4 linked regions of the Homo sapiens genome follow. The protein of the gene in region 1 interacts with the protein of each later gene in a pairwise test. Each region holds a gene or a part of one and is shown in the gene's direction. Other genes may lie near its edges.

The links.
Region 2: the proteins of LIMS1 (region 1) and PLCE1 interact in a two-hybrid assay, tested with the Homo sapiens proteins (one large-scale study listed by BioGRID and IntAct).
Region 3: the proteins of LIMS1 (region 1) and ZMYM4 interact in a two-hybrid assay, tested with the Homo sapiens proteins (one large-scale study listed by BioGRID and IntAct).
Region 4: the proteins of LIMS1 (region 1) and ZNF160 interact in a two-hybrid assay, tested with the Homo sapiens proteins (one large-scale study listed by BioGRID and IntAct).

Annotation. Positions count from the first base shown.
Region 1 is NC_000002.12:108,536,627-108,542,205, forward strand, and holds part of LIMS1 (LIM and senescent cell antigen-like-containing domain protein 1), read left to right. Parts: intron 1-5,579. UniProt on the Homo sapiens protein: Within the IPP (ILK-PINCH-PARVIN) complex, binds to F-actin, promoting F-actin bundling, a process required to generate force for actin cytoskeleton reorganization and subsequent dynamic cell adhesion events such as cell spreading and migration.
Region 2 is NC_000010.11:94,027,187-94,032,765, forward strand, and holds part of PLCE1 (1-phosphatidylinositol 4,5-bisphosphate phosphodiesterase epsilon-1), read left to right. Parts: intron 1-3,496; 5' UTR 3,497-3,860; coding exon 3,861-5,066; intron 5,067-5,579. UniProt on the Homo sapiens protein: The production of the second messenger molecules diacylglycerol (DAG) and inositol 1,4,5-trisphosphate (IP3) is mediated by activated phosphatidylinositol-specific phospholipase C enzymes.
Region 3 is NC_000001.11:35,385,948-35,391,526, forward strand, and holds part of ZMYM4 (zinc finger MYM-type protein 4), read left to right. Parts: intron 1-126; coding exon 127-242; intron 243-1,055; coding exon 1,056-1,331; intron 1,332-1,506; coding exon 1,507-1,657; intron 1,658-2,962; coding exon 2,963-3,135; intron 3,136-4,000; coding exon 4,001-4,151; intron 4,152-5,579. UniProt on the Homo sapiens protein: Plays a role in the regulation of cell morphology and cytoskeletal organization.
Region 4 is NC_000019.10:53,075,923-53,081,501, reverse strand, and holds part of ZNF160 (zinc finger protein 160), read left to right. Parts: intron 1-5,579. UniProt on the Homo sapiens protein: May be involved in transcriptional regulation.

The DNA of each region.
Region 1 (5,579 bases):
GTGGAATGCAGTAGCATGATCATGACTTACTGCACCCTAGACCTCCCAGGCTGAAGCAATCCTTCCACCTCAGTCCCCCAAGTAGCTGGGACTACAGACACACGCCACCATGCCTGGATAATTTTTGTATTTTTTTGGTAGAAACAGGGTTTCGCCATGTTGTCCAGGCTAGTCTGGGGGTCCCAAACTCCTGGGTTCCAGCAGTCCACCCACCTCAGCCTCCCAAAGTGCTGGAATTTTAGAGCCACTGTGCTCAGCCTGTCTAAGTTTTATGTGAATGTAACTTTTCCTTTTCTGGGATAAATGTCCAAGAGTGTGCAATTGGCAGGTTGTACAGAAATCGTATGTTTAGTTTTTTGAGAAACTGACAGTTTTTTTCCAGCATGACTGTACCATTTCACTTAAAAAGTGAAATTGACATTATTTTCCTGTGAGTACATAAAGGTAAAGAATTCAGGGACAGTACCACGGCCCTCTTTAGTGCTAAGCGGCCAGCAGTTGTACCGACTGTTGTTTTTGCACTATCTGTGTGTCAACACAGTCCACAATGCTACAGTGACTTCTTAGGAATATCTTAGTATGATGAAAATAGTTTTGATCTCTCGGATCCCTTAGAAAGGTCTTGGAGACCCTCAGGAGTTCAAGGCCATACTTTAAGAACCACTGTTAAAGACATAATCCTAAATGATGAAGGATATGCAGGTATTGGGGATATTTAAAAAGGAACAAATACAAGGTTTCTCTTAAAATTGCTCTTGAATGCTTGTGGTAGTGTGTGCCTTGTAGTTTTGGCTAGTTTTAGTAGGATGTAATAACTAAGACTTGGACCACCATGGAAGAAGCAACTTTCTGCCTTTCAGGATTTTCCCTGATAAGAAAATGGCCAGTGCCATTATGAAGAGGGACAATGCCATGGGCCTAAGTGTATTCACACTTTTCAGTGCTCTGTGCCTGTTTGTATGGTGAGAAAATCGAACTGTTGATTTTTAAGAAAGCTAAGGAAAGTTTGGTGGTACAAAAGATCATTTCAGTTCTGGTGGTTCCGGTTTTTGCAGGCTTAGAGAAAACTGTCCATCAGGATTGTGCTGTCTTGATTTTATTTGATCATTCCCACCCTTTTCCCTTTGCTGTAGCCCCTTGACCTGTCTCCTGGGCAGTTCTTTCCTTTGCTAAATGTGAGTACAACAAGTAGGCTTTCCTTTCCTCCTAGAGAGGGGGACCTTGGAGCCCCTCCACTGGGTCAGAGAAACTTCCATAGCTGCAGCAGATCAGTAACAGGAGAGCCGAGCTTTACTCTGAAAGCCTCTATTTTCAATAATGTTGTGTTTGCTCTTTGGATAATCATTTAAATAAATAAACCTCAGTATAGGTCATGTTCTTACCTAGGTTTGCACTTAAATAGAAGGAAAAACATCTCAAACCATTTTGTTAGTTTTATAGTTCTCGTAACTACACTTTAAGCTGTGGTTTTCCACCCACAGGGATGTCATCTACATTATATGCTGGACTGTTGCCACATTGTCTTCCAAAAACTTTAATTTTAAGACACTTGAGAAGCAGGAGCTGCACTACCTGTTGCCATATACTGTGCATTCTTCAGCAACAGAGGTTTCCTTTTCACTCTTTCTGATATAATCTCATCTCTTTTATTTGATCATATCACACATTTCCACCCTGGAGCTTACTGCAGGAATGAGTAAGGGAGTCATTTTCCTGCATCTTTTTTCACGTTGGAGCACGTTTTGGAGCTTGATGAGTCTTCAGTGACATTTAACAGTGGGGCGGGACAGCTGCAGATAAAGCAAGTGCTGAAGAGTGCATTCTGTGAGAGGTAGGAAGAAAGGTGAAGGCAGTAGTTCAGCTGCTGGGAGTATGTGCTTGGCAGTGGGAGGCACGGGACTCAGCATCAGCACACCAGGAATCCAGGGCTTTCAGGATGTCTGAGTAGCAGGCAAGGTAAAGCAAGATAACAGACAACATGCATTTACAAGTAATGTTTACACATACTTTCCCTTTCTACAAAAATGGAATCATAGTCATACTATTCTGCAATTGCTTTTTTTAGTATTAAAAAAGTTACGGGAAAACATGCAAAACAAAATTTACTATTTTAACCATTTTTGAGTGTACAGTTCTGTGGCATTATGTACATTGACGTTGCTGTGCAACCATCACTACCCTTCCTTCCAAGAACTTTTTCATCTTCCCAAACTGAAACTCTGTGACCAGTAAATACCAACTCCCCATTTCTTGCAATTGCTTTTTTACTTCAACAAGCTGTCTTAGAGCGGTGTATCTGGGTTTACCTTATGTTTTTTAACCTTAGTTTTAATGGCTGCATAGTATTTCACAGTGTACATGTGATATGATTTGTACATCCAGTCCTTGACTAGTGGTTATTTGGGTTCTATTTTTTAATTATCACAAACACTTTGAACATCTCTGCCAGAGTGTTTTTTGTTTTGTTTTGTTTTTGAGACAAGGTCTCACTCTGTCACCCAGGCTGGAGTAAAGTGGTGCAATCATGGCTCACTGCAGCCTCAACCTCCTGGGGTCAGGTGATCCTTTCACCTTAGACTTCTGAGTAGCTGGGACAACAGGTACATGCCACTATGCCCGGCTAATATTTTGTATTTTTTGTAGTGACAGGGTTTCCCCATCTTGCCCAGCCTAGTGTTGAATTCCTGGCCTCAAGCGATCCGCCCTTCTCGGCCTCTCAAAGTTCTGGGATTACAGGCGCGAGCCACTGCACCCAGCTACCAGAGTTTTCATAGCTTTCTGAGTGTAGAGTTAGTATGTGCATGAGTGTTTGGGTCCATGTTCTAGTCCTAGTTCTGTCCCTTCATGGCTCTTTGACTTTGGCCCTGTCAGCGTCTTTAAGCCTCAGATTCTTAATTTATAAAATAATCCCACCTGTCTCAGAGGTTGTTGTGATAACTAAATATGAAGGCAAATGCAAATATTTCTGAAAGGATACCGATGAAATTTTTAGTGATTGTTGCTTCTGGAGAGGGAGTCTAGGCACCTGAGAATCCAGGATGAGAGGGACATTTTTTGTTGTATAGCTTTTTGTACTGTTTTGATTTTTAAAATCGTGTATGTTTTCATTTTTAAACCATTTAACACCATGCCAGGAACATAGTAGATGCTCAATGAAGTCATCATTTCCCATCATCCTGGTTCTTTTCCTCCGGACTTATACTGCTGCTAATGGCACCTAACATGGTTGCTTTTGTTTCTTCCTGTCCTTCCCTCCCTATAGCCACCTTCTTGCTGAGTTCTTACCTTCGAATTTTCTCTTGAATCCATCGTTTTCTTTTTTCACTCCTTTCTTACTGATTTCCTTTTCACCCTGGTTCTGAAAATCTTTCAAATGAACATAAGATGATAGTATTAAGACTGGGAAAGACTTGAGAGAATGCAGAGCCAGTGTCCTGTGGACTGTAAACTTATTCCAACTGGCTTGAAAAAAAAAATCTATGCACATACTAAGTGTTTGAAGTGGAACAAATGATGTTTTGTGAATGTTTCTAATTTTCATTTAACAGGTGATAAAGTACAGATTCCTTTTTTTTTTTTTTTTTTTTTTTGAGACGGAGTCTTGCTCTGTTGCCCAGGCTGGAGTGCAGTGGCATGATCTCGGCTCACTGCAGGCTCCGCCTCCCGGGTTCAAGTCATTCTCCTGCCTCAGCTTCCCAAGTAGCTAGGACTACAGGCGCCTGCCACAACACCTGGCTAATTTTTTGTATTTTTAGTAAAGACGGAGTTTCACCGTGTTAGCCAGGATGGTCTCTACCTCCTGACCTTGTGATCTGCCCGCCTCGGCCTCCCAAAGTGCTGGGATTACAGACTTGAGCCACCGCGCCTGGCTGATAAAGTACAGATTCTTTTAAAGGGTTTGTGGAATTCGTGGTAGTATTTATATAGTGCATGCTTTATCTGTTAACGTGCTAAAAAGACAATCATGGTGACATGAAGATCTAAGAAAATTTATTTAACATTTAAAAAGTGGGTTTATATGTGAAAAAGTTGGAACCTACTGAACTCATGCACTTTAGTGGGTCCCCTGCATTAGCCCTTTATTTAAATACACTGCTTCTTTATTTTACAGGACAGGATTTGCCTAGAAGGTAAAATAGTTTATTCAAGGCCGAAAGTCAGTTAACAGCAGGGTTAGGAATACAGCCCAAGATGTGGTTGTATTGTGGGGTCTCCTCTGCTATATTACGTTGGTTTGCTCTGTTACTTTATTCACATTGCATTGTTACAGTTTGTTGTGTGTATATATTTTATCTTTTTGTCTACAGTATAGAGTAAATACCTTGAGGACCAAGACCTATAGCTGAGCCCATTAACATAGTACATTTGGAAATGTCTGAATGAATTATGGATATTGGCCCAGAATTGTTCTATTACAGGTGTCCTGGATGTCAGTCTCTTTCAAGTGATTCCTTTTGAAGAACACTTCAGAAGTGTTGTTGAAGACCTGGTATTCCTAGCCACATGTGCTGGTGCTTGCAACTTTTTCCTCCCCAGAGAGATCCCTTCCTATTGACGGGCTTCCTTACCAATGCATCAGCTGAGTGACAAATGTTACCAACTACTTAAACAGATATGTTTATTTCTCATTGGTAAATGTAGCTGTTGTTTTGTTTTTGTTTGCTTACTTTTAAAGCTGGGCACATTGCTGTCCATTTTAAAATTTGCCTTGTTAATACAGTGAGGAAGGGAGGGAGAATGGACATTGGGTAGGCAGTTGCAGCTTTTGCCACAGCTAGCTGTTTCTCCTTCTCAGTGCAGTAGATTCAACAGGATTTGTTTTTCTGTGCAGGTACAGTGCAGGTGCACCTGACTGATCTGTCATCCATGTTGGTTTCAGATTTTTCTAAAGAACTACTTTGGTCACATGTTTTCAAAATATTGAGAAGCTGCTTATTGCCTGTCAAGTAGGTCCAAACTCCAGCGCCTGGAATTTAAGGCTGTTTGTGATCTGGCCCAACCCATCTTCATAGCCTTGTCACACACTGTTTCCTTAGCCTTTGTCTCTCTAACCCACTGCCTTTTTCTGAAAATGATGATTTCCTGCCTCAGTGCTGTTCATGCCCTTCTCTGGGCCTGGAAAATCATCATCTTTTGTGTTTTCTTGGCAGCTGGAACAAAATTGCCGCTTCTCTCATAAAATAACGAATTCCTGGAGCATTAATTTAGCCCCCGCTGTGTAGTAGGGAATTAGGGATTCAGAGCTTTTTCTGTTTTCCCAAAGCATTTTGAATTCTTTTTTGGTAATTACCAATTTCTGTTTTGTTTTATAGTTTTTTGTATATATGTCTAAGCTTTTCTGCCAAAGTGTAATCTCTGGAAGTAAAGGAATGTCTTAATCAAATTTGTTAAATATCCAAAGAAAAACAAGCTGCACAGTAGGCTTTATTTCTCCTTTTATTTGTTGTTAGTGAATCGAAAAGTTCAGGGCTAGCTCTGTTTAGTGTCTTTGACGTTGTTTGAATAAATTCACAAAACTTTGAGTAAAACAGGATCATTTTCTTTGGTTTAGCTTGACTCTACAGTGTATTACAGACTGC
Region 2 (5,579 bases), on another chromosome or scaffold:
CCTCCCTGGAAATCACTCCCACCCCATCAGCACTGTCTGCTTTAGATGTTCTTCCTCTGTGTTAATGCAGATTATAGCTCTATTTACACTGTACTTTGGTGACTTATCAGATGGTAAGGAAATCCAGGACAAGATCCCTGCCTTATTTAATTGTGTACTCAACAAATATTTGCTGAATAAAGGAATGGTCTGAGATTGAACCAAGTCTAGTGCTCTATAAAGTCTGCTCCCTGTAATGTTGCTCATCCATGATTCATGATAGTAAGCTGGAGGCAAAGCAAAGACCATTGCTTCGATGTCTGTGTATATCCTCAGCCTTCCAGAGACAAAGCCACATATAAGATAAGCTTCTTGGCTGGGCTTGGTGGCTCATGCCTGTAATTCCAGCACTTCGGGAAGCCAAGGTGGGCGGATCACAAGGTCAGGAGATCGAGACCATCCTGGCTAACATGGTGAAACCCCGTCTCCACTAAAAATACAAAAAATTAACTGGGCGTGGTGGCACATGCCTGTAGTCCCAGCTACTCAGGAGGCTGAGGCAGGAGAATCGCTTGAATCCATGAAGTGGAGGTTGTAGTGAGCCAAGATCATGCCACTGCACTCCAGCCTGGCGACAGAGTGAGACTCCATCTCAAAATAAATAAATAAATAAATAAATAAATAAGATAAAAAATAAAAAATGAAAGGCTTCTCCTAGCAGCCATGGGTCTTCATAGCTAGAAGACATCAGAAACCCAAACCCATAGGGCTTCAGACTAGATGGAAGATAAAACAGCATAGTCTATGGCTAAGAGAAGAGATTCTGTAGTCAGTCTTCTTGGATTTGAATCCTGTCTCAATCATTTTCCAGTGGAGGGATCTTTGGCAATTCACTTAGCTTTTCTTTGCTTTGGTTTCTACTCTTTCAAATGTGGATAGCAGAAATTATTTGTATTAGTTATCTATCACTGTGTAGCATATTAGCCCAAAATGTAGTGGCTCAAAGCAATAAACATTTATCATCTCACAGTTTCTGTGGTCAGGAATTTGGGACGAGGCTTATCTGTCTGAGGGTCTGTCATGTGGTTGCAGTCAAGATATAGGTTGCAGATACAATCATCTAAAGCCTTGACTATAGCTGGAGGATCCGCTTCCAAGATGGCGCACTCACATGGGTGTTGTCAAGAGTCCTCCATACTTTCCACAGGGATCTCTTCTTACAATATGGCAGCAGATTACCCCCAGAGCATGCGAGAGAGGAGTAGCAAGGAGGAAGCTCCAATGACTTTCATGACTGATTCTCAGCAGTCATGTACTGTTCCTTCTACCACATTCCATACATTAGAGGGAAGCCACTAAGTATAACCCACATTCAAGGGGCGGGGAATTAGGCTCCACCTTGTGAAGAGAGGAGTATCAAAGAATTTGTGGACATATTTTAAAACCATCACACTATCTTGTAGTATTGAGTGAGAATTACACAAGATAATAATTGCAAAGTGGCCGGGCACAGTGGCTCACACCTGTAATTCCAGCAATTTGGGAGGCTAAGATGGGAGGATCGCTTGAGCCCAGAAATTCAAGACCAGACTGGGCAACATGGTGAATCCCTGTCTTTACAAAAAATACAAAAATTAGCCAAGCGCAGTGCTATAGTCTCAGCTACTTGGGAGGCTGAGGTGGGAGGATCACTTGAACCCAGGCTGGTTTTAAAATATGTCCACAAATTCTTTGATATTTCTCCTTTCAAAAGGTGGACCCTAATTCCCCTCCCCTTGAATGTGGGTTATACTTAGTAATTCCTTCTAACATATAGAATATGATAGAAGGAACAGTATGTGACTGCTGAATCCAGGAGGCAGAGGTTGCAGCAAGCAGTGATTGTGCCATTGCACTTCAGCCTGGTAACAGAATGGGACTCTGTCTCAAAATTATGATGATGATGATGATATTTATAATTATAATAACAACAATAATTACAAAGTCCTTAGAACAGGACCTAAGCATCACCAAAAATGTTTTCCCCTTCTCCTCCTTTGAATTGCTTACCTCATGGGTAAGAAAGGACATATTAGCTGTCAATCTGAAGGCTTTGGCCTGAAAAATCTCTTTAAAAAATAGAGCAGATATTTGAATTCAAGTTAGTGCCATATGCCACTAAAATTATCTATATAATCTTGACCTGAAAAGTTGTTCATGGTGTGCTTTGAATTTTTAAAAGCAGGTACAGAACAGAATGACCAACATTATCTGGTATTTGCATAGTTATACACATATATCTCTATGTATGTTGATGCATAGGGAGTGTTCTGGAAGGAGGTTTCTGAAAGTATTGATAATAGTTATTGCTGTGTGATAGGATTTGTTAGGATGTTGAGCTAGGACACTGCTGCTCTGTGTGGGCTGGTTTATTCCCTGCAAAGAATATGATTTCTAGGGTTTCCAGTGATTTTTCAGAGTAGTTGTAGAGACATGAATATACTGGGAGCCTCTCACCCTTGAGGCTGTGTTTGTGCTTGAGGGAACACATATAGAAGGGATTAAGGGGTAGTTGATGACTCTTTGGGAAAAGAGGGTACGGGAGAAGCAAGGGGAAGAAAGACATCTATTTGTCAAAGAGCAAAGGCAAGGCAAAGCTGGTGTTGGCAGCAGAGCGTGACTGCTGATTAGTTTTCTCGGGAGCAACTGCTTCTCCTGGAAGGGAATGATATGCTCATCATGGGCACCTTCTAGTCCTATAGTGCCTTGTATATCCTTTATAATTGTGTTTCCACATTGGATAGAAATTTTTTTGATTCCCTCTCTCTACTAACAGAGTTACAAGCAGTGCAGGCTTGTTAGTGATAAGTTATTTCAGCTTTATATGCCTGGAAAAGTTTTTACTTAATTTTTATTTGCAGAAGACATTTTTGCTGGGTATAGAATTTGAAGTTGACAGTAGTTTTTCTTTCAGTACTTTAAAGATTTGTCCACTCTCTTCTGGATTGCATTGTTTCTGATTAAAAGTCTGCTGTCATTCTTATCTTTGTGCCTCTTTGCTTAATGTGCCTTATTTCTCTAGCTTCCTTGGCCTCCCTGAAGTCTTAACTATTTCTCTTCTACTCAGGTAAATTGTTGGATTTTATCTGAGTTTCCCTTCCTTGCCTTGTTGCCTGGAAACTTTCTAAGCAGTAAGCTAGGGCATTTATAGGGCTCACTTCTTTTTTTTTTCTTCTTTCAGACATCAATGTCTGTGTTGCTCGTTGTTCAATATCTGAAAACCACTGGGTTTTTTTCTGATTTTCTTTTTAGTTATTTAAGGTGGATGAATAAATCTTGCCCTTGTTACTCCATTTTGGCTGGAAGCAGAAGTTCTGAAACATTAAATAAAAAAAAAATACTAAAAACATAAAAACCAACTTCTGATTGCAAAAAAAAACCTTTTTTCTCAAAATTGTCTGTATCTTAGGATTGTGAGATCATTTTTTTAAAAACTCACTGAGTGCCACAGTGTTTGACATTATCTCTTTTCTTACAGGAAACAGGAATCATTCAAACTGGATTTTAAAATCATTGCAAATCAGTGATGGATCAGAAGTTGCAGAGTGCAATCCCGAGTAAAAGTCTTCAAAAAATTTTGCTTCAGGTAACAGAGGAAGGAAAATTGATCTACCACCTTAAAACCCTGATCTAGAAAAAATATATATTCATGATAGGAAGTTATAACTAAGAAAATTTATTTGCCTCTTAATGCTCCTGAATGAAAGGAATTATCCCTTTGTTCTTTGGGAGGACTTGTGTATCTGAGATTGTTGTAATAATCAGTCATTTTATTAAAACCTTGACATGATCACCAGGGAGGAAAAATAGAGCAATAGTCAAAACCTGTGTGTTAGTCCAAGATGACTTCTGAAGAAATGACAGCTTCTGTTCTCATACCTGTGACTCAGAGAAAAGTGGTTTCTGCCCAGTCGGCTGCAGATGAAAGTAGTGAAAAGGTCTCAGACATCAATATTTCAAAAGCACATACTGTCAGACGAAGTGGGGAGACTTCTCATACCATCTCACAACTGAACAAACTTAAAGAAGAACCTTCTGGAAGCAACTTGCCAAAGATTCTCTCAATAGCGAGGGAGAAAATAGTGAGTGATGAGAACAGTAATGAAAAATGTTGGGAGAAAATCATGCCAGATTCTGCGAAAAACCTTAACATTAACTGCAACAACATATTGAGAAACCATCAGCATGGCCTTCCTCAGAGACAATTTTATGAAATGTACAACTCTGTTGCTGAGGAAGACTTGTGTTTAGAAACTGGAATTCCTTCTCCACTGGAAAGAAAGGTGTTCCCTGGAATTCAACTGGAACTAGACAGACCTTCCATGGGCATTAGTCCTTTAGGAAATCAGTCAGTGATCATAGAGACAGGCAGAGCACACCCTGACAGCAGAAGGGCAGTATTTCATTTTCATTATGAAGTTGACAGAAGAATGTCAGACACTTTCTGTACCCTATCAGAAAACTTAATTTTAGACGATTGTGGAAATTGTGTACCACTACCTGGGGGTGAGGAGAAGCAAAAGAAAAACTATGTGGCATATACCTGTAAACTGATGGAATTGGCCAAAAATTGTGATAATAAGAATGAGCAGCTGCAGTGTGATCATTGTGACACCTTGAATGATAAATACTTTTGCTTTGAAGGCTCTTGTGAGAAGGTTGACATGGTATATTCAGGTGATAGCTTTTGTAGGAAAGACTTTACTGACAGTCAAGCTGCCAAGACCTTTTTGAGCCATTTTGAGGACTTCCCTGATAATTGTGATGATGTAGAAGAAGACGCTTTTAAAAGCAAAAAGGAGCGATCCACTTTGTTAGTCAGGAGATTCTGTAAAAATGACAGAGAAGTTAAGAAATCTGTGTATACTGGAACAAGAGCAATTGTGAGAACTCTGCCTTCTGGCCACATTGGGCTGACTGCATGGAGTTACATAGATCAGAAGAGAAATGGTCCCTTACTGCCTTGTGGGAGAGTAATGGAACCCCCGTCAACAGTGGAGATAAGGCAAGATGGGAGCCAACGTCTGTCAGAAGCCCAGTGGTATCCTGTAAGCATTTGAGTTTCTTTTTACCATTTCTTTAAACTTGCTTTTTTTTTCAAAAAAAAGTCCAAATTTCCATTGTCATAATTGATGAGAAATTTTAAGATCTGTCAAATTATGATTCTTAGGTTAAGCATTTGTGGTTATTGAAAACAGATACTCCAATTGATAGCTATCAAGATTGAGTTGATACTGCAACAACATAAAAGTGTGTCAGAAAATAATGTTATTGGGAGTGGAGGAATTAGGGAGATTTCCTGGTAGTGGAAAAATGGCTCCATTTGTTGCTTATCTGTTTGTGTTCTTTTGAGATAAATGCCTGGGTCCTGTTCTATGGTGTAGTTCATTATTGTTTTTAGGTCTCCAGACCTAACAGAACTTAATTCTGTTTTTTTTCATTTTCCAACTAATGGCCCCACTTCCTTCCCTCTTAAACTTTTTTATGCCCTGGATTCCTTTGGCAAAGTGATGAAACCTATGGATTCAGAATGATGTTTTTAAATGAATCAGATGAAATAG
Region 3 (5,579 bases), on another chromosome or scaffold:
AGTTTCAGTTCCTACAACTTACCCTGGCTCTTAAATTTTCTTATATTGTATAGTATTATTTAATTTCTCATACTTTTGTGTACATTTGTACATATTACTCATTGGTTTTTATTTTGATTTGCTAAGGTGTACAAGTTCAGTGTAACAGTTGTAAAACCTCAGCAATTCCTCAGTATCACCTAGCCATGTCAGATGGAAGTATACGCAACTTCTGCAGCTACAGCTGTGTGGTAGCTTTCCAGGTATGGCTTCAGGAACCTTCCTCTTCTTCAGTCAGTGAGTCACCTACTGTATGAGTCTGTTCTTGCACTCCTCTAAAGAAATACCCTAGACTGGGTAATTTATAAAGAAAGAGGTTTAATTGGCTCACAGTTCCACAGGCTGTACAGGTAGCATGGCTGGAGAGGCCTCAGGAAACTTTCAATTATGGCGGAAGGCGAAGGGGAAGCCGGCACGTCTTACATGATGGGCTCAAGAGGAAGAGAGAGAAGCGGGAGGTGCTACACTTTTAAACAACCAGATAGTGAGAACTCACTATCACCAGAACAGCAGGGGAGAAATCCACCCCCATGATCCAGTCACTTCCTGCCAGGCTCCTCCCCCAACATTGGGGATTACCGACTGGACATGAGATTTGGGCAGGGACACGAATTCAAACCTATCACCTACTATAGTAATGCACATTTATTAGGTGTTTGCTAGGGCCTGGGTTGTATAAGTTTCTATATCATTCCTATTAAACTTGGATTTGTAGTTCATTCTGTATTTGGAATTTAATTTAACTGCCTTCTATAAAATTGAATGGTACTTTTATCACCCATATTATCTATTGGGAGGATATTATTTTTGAGGAAGATTATTAGTTAAGTTATTTTATTTTTTCATCATAAATGAGACTCCCCCCATTCCGTAATAAGCTGCTCAGAGGCAGGAACATTGCCTGTTAACAGATGTACCTTACATGCCTAGAACGGTGCTTGGCATATGTAGGCACACAATACTTCTTTGTTTTAACAAAGATTAAATTGATACTTTTTGTTGTTTTGTTTTTCCAGAATTTATTCAACAAACCAACTGGAATGAATTCTTCAGTAGTGCCCTTGTCTCAGGGCCAAGTAATTGTAAGCATCCCCACAGGTTCCACAGTGTCAGCCGGAGGAGGTAGCACATCTGCTGTTTCTCCCACCTCCATCAGTAGCTCTGCTGCAGCTGGTCTCCAGCGTCTCGCTGCCCAGTCCCAGCATGTTGGGTTTGCACGAAGTGTTGTGAAACTCAAATGTCAACACTGTAACCGTCTTTTTGCCACAAAACCAGAACTTCTTGACTATAAGGTAAAGTATAGCATGTTCATGATAAGATTTTGAGTATACGTGGGTCTATTTGTAAAATTATTTTTAACTTTGCATCTCTCAAAATCATACCATTTGTTTTGAAAGTAAGGGAGATAAGGAGTTCCATAAGACAAACCAAATGTTTAATTAGTACTTAATGATTATTTCTTTGCAGGGCAAAATGTTTCAGTTCTGTGGCAAGAATTGTTCTGATGAATATAAGAAAATAAATAATGTAATGGCAATGTGTGAATATTGTAAAATTGAGAAAATTGTAAAGGAGACTGTTCGGTTCTCAGGTGCTGACAAGTCATTCTGTAGTGAAGGTAAAGACAGAAGATTATCTTACCTACTGAGCATGTTGGTTGTTTTAAAGCAGTTGATGATGATTTAAGCTTTCACTGTCTAAGTTAATCTGTTTTATTGTTTATGTATAACGTAAATGCCTTTTCGATTCATTTACACTTAGTTCATTCTTTTTTGATCTAGTTTTCTTATATTATGTAGCTGTTAAAATGAAGTGAAAGATTTGCAAAGTATAATGCAGAAGAAGATGATGTGAAAAACATTTAACATCCTTAGGTTCCCCATTATTAGGTTGATCGGGACCTCAAAGAGCTTCTAGTTCGTGTACTTATTTCTAAATGGGATGCCTTAAATTATGGTAACATTCTAAGTTTATACTTTTATTGTCTTAAACAGCCATTATATTTCTGAATATAAATGGCTTGAATATGCAAATTAATATGTGGAAGATTGTTTTCCTTAGATAACTCTTCTATATGTTTATAATGTTTTATTTTACTCTAAAGCTGTATTAGCCTTCTAGAGCAAGGGCTTTCAAACCTTTTGATAACACCAAAGAAGAAATACATTTACACTGTGACCCAGTATATTTTCACATACCTAAATAAAAGTTTTTTTTGTTTTTGTTTTTGTTTTTTGAGACAGAGTCTTGCTTTGTCACCCAGGCTGGAATGCCATGGAGCGATCTTGGCTCACTGCAACCTCTGCCTCCTGGGTTCAAGCGATTCTCCTGCCTCAACCTCCCGAGTAGCTGGGACTACAGGCACCCGCCACCACACCTGGCTAATTTTTGTATTTTTAGTAGAGACAGGGCTTCACCATGTTGGCCAGGCTGGTCTCCAACTCCTGACCTCAGGTGATCCACCCACTTTGGCCTCCCAGAGTGCTGGGATTACAGGTGTGAGCCACTACGCCCAGCCCCAAAAGTTTCATGAAATAAAATCGATGCAGTTTAATATTTTCTCTTCTGTGCTATCCTGTCTTATATCATTTAAAACAAAAACAAAAACAAAGCAAAACAAAAACTAGTATAGATACTCTAAAAAATCAAGATACTCTGTGAACTGGTCAGGACCCAAGTGTGAAAACTTTGTCCTAGACCACTTATTTTTCTTTTTTTTGTTTTTGTTTTTATTTGACATGGGGTCTTGCCATGTTGCCCAGGCTGGTCTCAAACTCCTGGGCTCAAGCACTCCTCCCGCCAGCCTCCCAAAGTGTTGGGATTACAGGTGTGAGCCACTGCACCGGGCCTGTCCTAGGCCATTTAAAGTTGCAGAAAACTAATACTTCTACCTAATGTTAATTTTATCTTTCCTGATTTTTAGGTTGCAAATTGCTTTATAAACATGACTTGGCAAAACGCTGGGGAAATCACTGTAAAATGTGCAGTTATTGTTTACAGACATCTCCCAAATTGGTACAGAATAATTTAGGAGGGAAAGTGGAAGAGTTCTGTTGTGAAGAATGCATGTCCAAATATACAGTTTTGTTCTATCAGGTAAATAGAATTCACATTCCTGGGTTTTTCATTCTAGGGCATAAATTATTCCCTTTTAAAATTTCATGTCACATAAAGGACAATTTAATTATTTAAAACTTTTAAGTATTAAATGTTTTATGCCTTCTAGCAATTAATATAAGATTTAGAAAGACTTTAATGTTATTGAAGTTTTCTTTTGTTTTTAATTTCCTGTAGGAGACATATCAGTCTTAAGACATTAAAATATTTAAACTTATAATTTTATTCACTTATTATTTAAATAAAGTGAATTTGTCTTCTGAAGTCTGAGGAAGATAGACCTTATTTTTATTTCACTTTGTTTTTTAATTGCTATAGAGTGAAGTCTGTATGTTACATGTGTTTTTTAAAAAAAATTAGTATAAAATCAGCTGGGCGCGGTGGCTCACGCCTGTAATCCCAGCACTTTGGGAGGCCGAGGCGGGTGGATCATGAGGTTAGGAGATCGAGACCATCCTGGCTAACATGGTGAAACCCCGTCTCTACTAAAAATACAAAAAAATTAGCTGGGTGTGGTGGCGGGCGCCTGTAGTCCCAGCTACCTGGGAGGCTGAGGCAGGAGAATTGCATGAACCCAGGAGGTGGAGCTTGCAGTGAGCTGAGATCACGCCACTGCACTCCAGCCTGGGCGATAGAGCAAGGCTCTGTCTCAAAAAAAAAAAAAAATATATATATATATGTGTGTGTGTGTGTGTGTGTGTGTGTATAATCATTGATAAAGACAAACTAATTTTTTGATCTAAATTCTAAGTTAATTTCGTCACTTGTTATGTGTGTCTTATTTTTATTTTGTCAGACCACAGATAATTTGTTTCTTACTCCTTGACTACCTTCTTCTTTTTAGATGGCCAAATGTGATGCTTGTAAGCGACAGGGTAAACTCAGTGAGTCCTTGAAATGGCGAGGGGAAATGAAACATTTCTGTAACCTGCTTTGTATCTTGATGTTCTGTAATCAGCAAAGTGTATGTGACCCGCCTTCACAAAATAATGCAGGTAAAATTAACCTTAGGTACTGAATGGAGTCTTTGGTCAATACTAGGAACTACTGTTCTTTTACAGATCAGGAACTGTGTAAACAGTTGTCATTAATTTCATGAAACCTCAGTTTCCTTGTATTCTGTATCAATAACATTTAGCTTTTTTTGTTGAACACCTTATTTCACTGTCGTCCGTGTGAAGAGACCACCAAACAGGCTTTGTGTGAGCAACAAGGCTGTTTATTTCACCTGGGTGCAGGCGGTCTGAGTCTGAAAAGAGTCAGTGAAGGGAGATGGGGTGGGGCCGTTTTATAAGATTTGGGTAGGTAAAGGAAAAAGGGGGGTTGTTCTCTGGCGAGCAGGAGTGGGGGTCACAAAGTGCTCAGTGGGGGAGCTTTTTGAGCCAGGATGAGCCAGGAAAAGGAATTTCACAAGGTAATGTCATCAGTTAAGGCAGGAACAGGCCATTTTCACTTCTTTTGTGTTGGAATGTCATCAGTTAAGGCAGGAACCGGCCATCTGGATGTGTACCTGCAGGTCAGAGGGGATATGATGGCTTAGCTTGGGCTCAGAGGCCTGACACCTTAGATTAAAGCTGAGTAAAAATGAGTTTTTGATTAAATAGATTTCTTTGAGAATATTGAATCAAATAAACTCTGTAAGAACTTAAATTTATGGGAAAGGATAACAGTTAATGGTTTGTAATTGAGTATAATTGGCTTCCTTAAAAAATCCTTTGAGACTACTTATAACAAAAGACATAAAGTCAAAATCACATGGCCTTTTAAATATACCATGTGCAGGCCAGATGTGATGGTTCATGCCTGTAATCCCACCGCCTTTGGAATGCTGAGGTGGGAGGACGGCTTGAGGCCAGGAGTTCAGGGGTGGAGTGAGCGGTGACCACAGCACAGCAATCCCAGCTGGATGATATAGTGAGACCCTGCCTCTAAAAAATTAAAATAAAATAAAACTATATGTCGTGGGCGTGACTAGTTGGGGCCAGTGTCACGGGCTGTAAAGGAATTTACCAAGACAGTCATAGGTAAAGGCAGATTTATTGGAGAAAGTGTGAAAATATGTTGCAAGGTTGCAGTGAGCAGCACAGCAGAGAAGGGGAAGTCTGCAAAGACGCAGCGGCTTGAGGGACGTTTTACATGGTCCTGCTGGAGGGGACTGCTTGCAGAATGTAGCCGTGCTCCTGGGGCTACCTGTAGGAGGTCATCTCTCAGAGTAATTACTCATTGTTCTCCCCCACCTGGGCCCCTTCCTCTTTGTTGCTTACTTACCTTGTCAGGACTTACTTATCTTATCAGGACTACACACTATGTGCTAGGCCACTTTATCTCAGAAAATTTATTATTTAAAAACAACACTAGTATCATCCTGAAAGCTAGAAGAATTTAAGTGTAGTCTCCTTACAAATAAAAGCAAAATCTACAAG
Region 4 (5,579 bases), on another chromosome or scaffold:
GCTTGTTGGCCAATAGTACGACTTCTTTTGAGAAGTGTCTGTTTATGCTATTTTCCCACTTTTTAGTGGGGTGATTTGTCTTCTTCTTGTTGATTTGCTTATGTTTCTTATAGATTCTGGATATTAGTTATTCGTCAGATGCGTAGTTTGCAAGTATTTTCTCCCATTCTGTAGATTGTTTACTCTGTTGATAGTTTGTTTTTCTGTGTACAAGCTCTTTAATTAAGTTCCACTTGTCTATTTTTTATTTTGCTGCATTTATTATGAGGTCTTCATAAATTCCTTTTATTTGCTGCATTTATTTTGCTGCATATATTATGAGGTCTTCATAAATTCCTTGCTTAGGCCAAAGTCTTAGAAGAGTATTTCCTAGGTTTGCTTTTAAGATTTTTATAGTTGGAGGTCTTATATTAAGTATTTAATCCATCTCAAGTTAATTTTTTTATATGGTGAGAGATAGGGATCCAGTTTCATTCTTCTGCATATGTTTAGCCAGTTTTCCCAGCACCACTTATTGAATAGGGTATCCTTTCCTCATTGTTTATTTTTGTTGATTTTCTTGAAGATCAGTTGGTTGGAGGTGTGGGCCTTTATTTTAGGGGTCTCTGTTCTATTCCATTGGTATATGTGTCTGTTTTTATACCAGTACCATGCTGTTTTGTTTACTGTAGCCTTGCAATATGGTTTGAAGTCAGGTAATGTGATGCATCCAGCTTTATTCCTTTTGCTTAGGATTGTCTTGGCTCTTTGAGCTCTTTTTTGCTTTCATATACATTTTAGAAGTTTTTTCTAATTCTGTGAAAAGTGATGTTGGTCATTTAATAGGAATACTGTTGAATCTATAGATTGCTTTGGGCAGTTTGGACATTTCATTGATATTGATTCTTTCAACCCATGAGCATGAAATGCTTTTCCATTTGTTCGTGTTGTCTGATTTCTTTCACTGGTATTTTGTAGTTCTCCTCATAGAGATAGTTCACAACCTTGGTTAGACATACTCCTAGTCATTTTTTGGGGGGTGTGGCTATTTTTAATAGGATTGCATTCTTGATGATGTGTTTCTCAGCTTGAACATTATTGGCGTTTAAGAGTACTGCTGACTGGGCCGGGCACAGTGGCTCACGCCTGTAATCCCAGCACTTTGGGAGGCCAAGGCAGGCGGATCACCTGAGGTCGGGAGTTCAAGACCAGCCTGACCAACATGGAGAAACCCAGTCTCTATTAAAAATACAAAATTAGCCGGGCGTGGTGGTGCATGCCTGTAATCCCAGCTACTTAGGAAGGCTGAGGCAGGAGAATTGCTTGAACCGGGGAGGCAGAGGTTGTGGTGAGCCAAGATCGCACTCCAGCCTGGGCAACAAGAGCGAAACTCCATCTCAAAAAAAAAAAAAAAAGTACTGCTGATTTTTGTACCTTGATTTTAAATCCTGAGACTTTGCTGAAGTCATTTATCAGGTCTAGGAGTCTTTTAGTGGAATCTTTAGGGTTTTTTAGATACAGAATCATATCCTTCTCAGAGAGATAATTTGACTTCCTCCTTTTCCTTTTCGTTTGTTGTTTTTGTTGTCGTTGCTAAAAAATAGAGACAGAGTCTCACTATGTTGCCCATGTTGGTCTCGAACTCCTGGACTCAAACTACCCTCTCACCTTGGCCTCCCACAGTGATGTGATTACAGGTGCAAACTACTGCATGCAGCCCTCTTTCTGTTTGAATGCCTTCTGTTTCTCTCGCCTGATTGCTCTGGCTAGGACTTGTCACAGGCATACTGTTTTACTCTTGGTAGCATCTGTTGATGCACAAAAGTTTTTCGGTTGGATGCAGTCCCTTTTTTTTTTTTTTTGCTGCTATTGTGTTTCCTTTTGGTGTCATAGCCAAGAAATCTTTGCCAAATCTAATATTCTGAAGTTTCCTTGATTTGTTGAGCCTATTTTTTTTTTTTTTTTTTTTTTTTAGATGGAGTTTTGCTCTTGTTGCTCAGGCTGGAGCGCAGTGCAGTGGCACAGTCTCACTGCAACCTCCGCCTCTCGGGTTCAAGAGATTCTCCTGCCTCAGCCATCCAAGTAGCCGGGATTACAGGCATGTGCAACCATGCCTGGCTAAATTTTTGTATTTAGTAGAGACGGGGTTTCTCCATGTTGGTCAGGCTGGTCTTGAACTCCTGACCTCAGGTGATCCACCTGCCTTGGCCTCCCAAAGTGCTGAGATTACAGGCGTGAGCCACCGTGCCCGAATTGTTGAGCATTTTTATCATGAACTATGTTGAATTTTGTCAAATAACTTTTTTTTGCACCGATTGAGATGAGCATGTGGTTTTGGTCCTTCACCATGTCAGTGTGGTGTATTACATTGACTTTCTTCTGTTGAACCACTCTTGTCTTCCCAGTGTGTAGTCCACTTGGTCATGGACTATAATCCTGTTAATGTCTTTACAATTTGGTTTCCTAGTATTTTGTTGAGGGCTTTTGCATCAGTGTTTATCACGAATAATATCTTACACTTTTGTTTCCTTGTCATATATTTGCTTGGGTGGTGTCAGACTAAGGGTGGTATCATACAATTGTTTTTTGTTGTTTCCTCTTCTTCACTTATTTGGAATTGTTTGAGAATTGTTAATTCTTCATTCAACATTGAGTAGAATTGTACAGTGCTTATGAGTTATGCATGTGTTCCTGGTCTTTGTTCTAGGATTTTTTTTTTTTTTGATTGCTGCTCCAGTTGCCTTACTACTTATGAGAGTATACAGATTTTTTCTTTCTCACTCAGACACAGTAGGTTAAGTTCTCTTATACTCCTTCTTCTTACTTTGACATTGGAGTTGACCACATGATGGTGTTCCACACTTCCCTTAGGCTATGTTCATTTGTTCATTTTTCTTTTCTTTTCTTTTCTTTTTTGACATGCAGTCTCACTCTGTCACCCAAAGCTGGAGTGCAGTGGTGTGATCTTGGCTCACTGCAACCTCTGCCTCCTGAGTTCAGCTGATTCTTCTGCCTCAGCCTCCTGAGTAGCTGGGATTACAGGCACACATCACCATGCCTGGCTATCTTCATCATTCTTCTATTTCATTTTCTCCTTTTATTTATTTTTTTTAGAGATGGGGTCTCACTTTGTAGCACAGGCTGGAATATGGTGGCATGATCATAGCTTACTGTACCTTCAACCTCCTAGGCTCAAATGATCCTCCTACCTCAGCCTCCTGAGTAGCTGGGACTACAGGCTCATGCCACTACACCCAGCTAATTTTGTGTATTTTTTTTTTCCCCTGAGGTGGCAACTCTTGTTTCCCAGGCTGGAGTGCAGTGGTGCGATCTCAGCTCATTGCAACCTCCATCTCCTGGGTCCAAGCGATTCTTCTGCCTCAGCCTCCCGAGTAGTTGGGATTACAGGTGCCCACCACCATGCCCAGCTAAGTTTTTGTATTTTTGTAGAGATGAGGTTTCATCATGTTGGCCAGGCTGGTCTCGAACTTCTGACCTCGTGATCCGCCCGCCTTAGCCTCCCAAAGTGCTGGGATTACAGGCGTGAGCCATCACGCCTGGCTCTAGTGTGTTTTTTAATTCAGTTATGTTTTTCAGCTCTAGAATTTCTGTTTCTTCTTCATAATTTTTATCTCTTTGTTGATAATCTCATATTTATTGTTTTTCTGATTTTCTGAAGTTGTTTATGAGTACTGTCTTAATACACTGAGCAACTTTAGGAGTCTTATTGTTATTTCTTTGATAATGTATATATATATATATCTGCTTCTTTAGTATTACTTTGTGGTGATTTAATATGTTGCTGCATATGGTCCATGTTTCTTTTTTTCTTTTGCTTTTTTTTTTTTTTTTTTGAGATGGAGTCTCACTCTGTCACCCAGGCTGGAGTGCAGTGGTGGGATCCCAGCTCACTGCAACCTCCACCTCCCGGGTTCAAGCGATTCTCTGTCTCAGCCTCCTGAGTAGCTGGGATTGCAGGCATCCGCCACCACGCCCGGCTAATTTTTGTATTTTTTGTAGAAACGGGATTTCACCATTTTGGCCAGGCTGGTCTCGAACTCCTGACCTCGTGATCCACCCGCCTCGGCTCCCAAAGTGCTGGGATTACAGGTGTGAGCCACCGTGCCTGGCTTCTTTTGATATCTCGTTATCTCCTGTTGGGACCACAGCATTTCACTAATCAGCCACTTGTAGTTTTTGATTCTGGCTTCCTTCAGGGAAGACATGCTACAGTCATCCTGACTAGAGGCTCTGGAGATCCCTCAAGCCTTTTCTAAGGATGCGTCCTCCGTGGACTTTTTGATTGTAGCTTAACTAAAGAGCTTGTGCCAGTTTGTATGCAGGAATGCCTCTGTTGTCTGCCGGCTGTTCCGCAGCCTCGCTGGTGTCCTAGTAAGCTGGGGGCTGCACCGCCACCTAATGTCTGCGTACGTTACTACAAGCTCTGGTTTATGACGGATGGCTTTGTTCTCAGTAGCTTCCTTACCTGGGGTCCTGTTACTTCAGTGTTTATATTCAGGCAAGACAGAAACTTGTCCCTTAGCAGTGCCCTGAAAAGTCAGAACGTTATGAGCCTTGTGTTGTGTTACAGGAAAAAAGAGAAAAAAAAAGTCAGAATGTTAGATGGATATTCCCATACTTTCTCTCCCCAGGAGAAAATGGAAGTGTGGTTTTCTCACAGTGATACTACATCATGGCAGGATAGGGCCTCAGGTGAGCAGGTGTTTCAAAAGAGTTCTGACCTCTGATGTGGTTGCCAGATTTCCCACAAAGACAATTTGGTCCATGTAGTGTTATTAAATCTGTGTCTCCATGGGTAGTGCTTGGGACTTCCTACTCCTCTGTCTTATAGACAGCATCACTTCAGTACAGTTTTCTTTTTTTGAGATGGAGTCTCACTCTGTCACCCAGGCTGGAGTGCAGTGGCGTGATCTCGGCTCACCGCAACTTCTACCTCCTGGGTTTAAGTGATTCTCCTGCCTTAGCCTCCCGAGTAGCTTGGATTACAGGCGCCTGCCACCACGCCTGGCTAATTTTTGTATTTTTAGTAGAGACAGGTTTCACCATGTTGGCCAGGCTGGTCTTGAACTCCTGACCTCAAGTAATCCACCCGCCTCGGCCTTTCAAAGTGCTGGATTACAGGCATGAGCCGCCACGCCCGGCCGCATTATCATTTCTTAAGATACCAGTTGTGCTTATTTAGTTCATGTAGTTATTGAATATCACTCAGTATGTCAAACATAATGTCTAACACTTCCATAGAGATAACCTTGTTTTCTGTTTTTTATTTGTATACTTATTGCCCATAAAACTGAGAAATCGACACTGATATAGAGGATATCACAACCTCTTAGGTAAAAGAATAATAAGACAGAATTAGGGAGACATAACTTGCTCAAAAGTCCTTAATGCGTAGGAAAATATGGGAAAAACAGACTCAGTTTCTCCTGCTTTGCTTCCATAATACAAATACTTCTGTGATTTTGGATGTATTGGGTTTTCCTCTACACATCAAATAAACAATTCTGCAACAGACACCAAATGGGTGTTCTCATATTTGATTCCATTCTGACACTGTCTATCTGGATATAGGGTCAGCT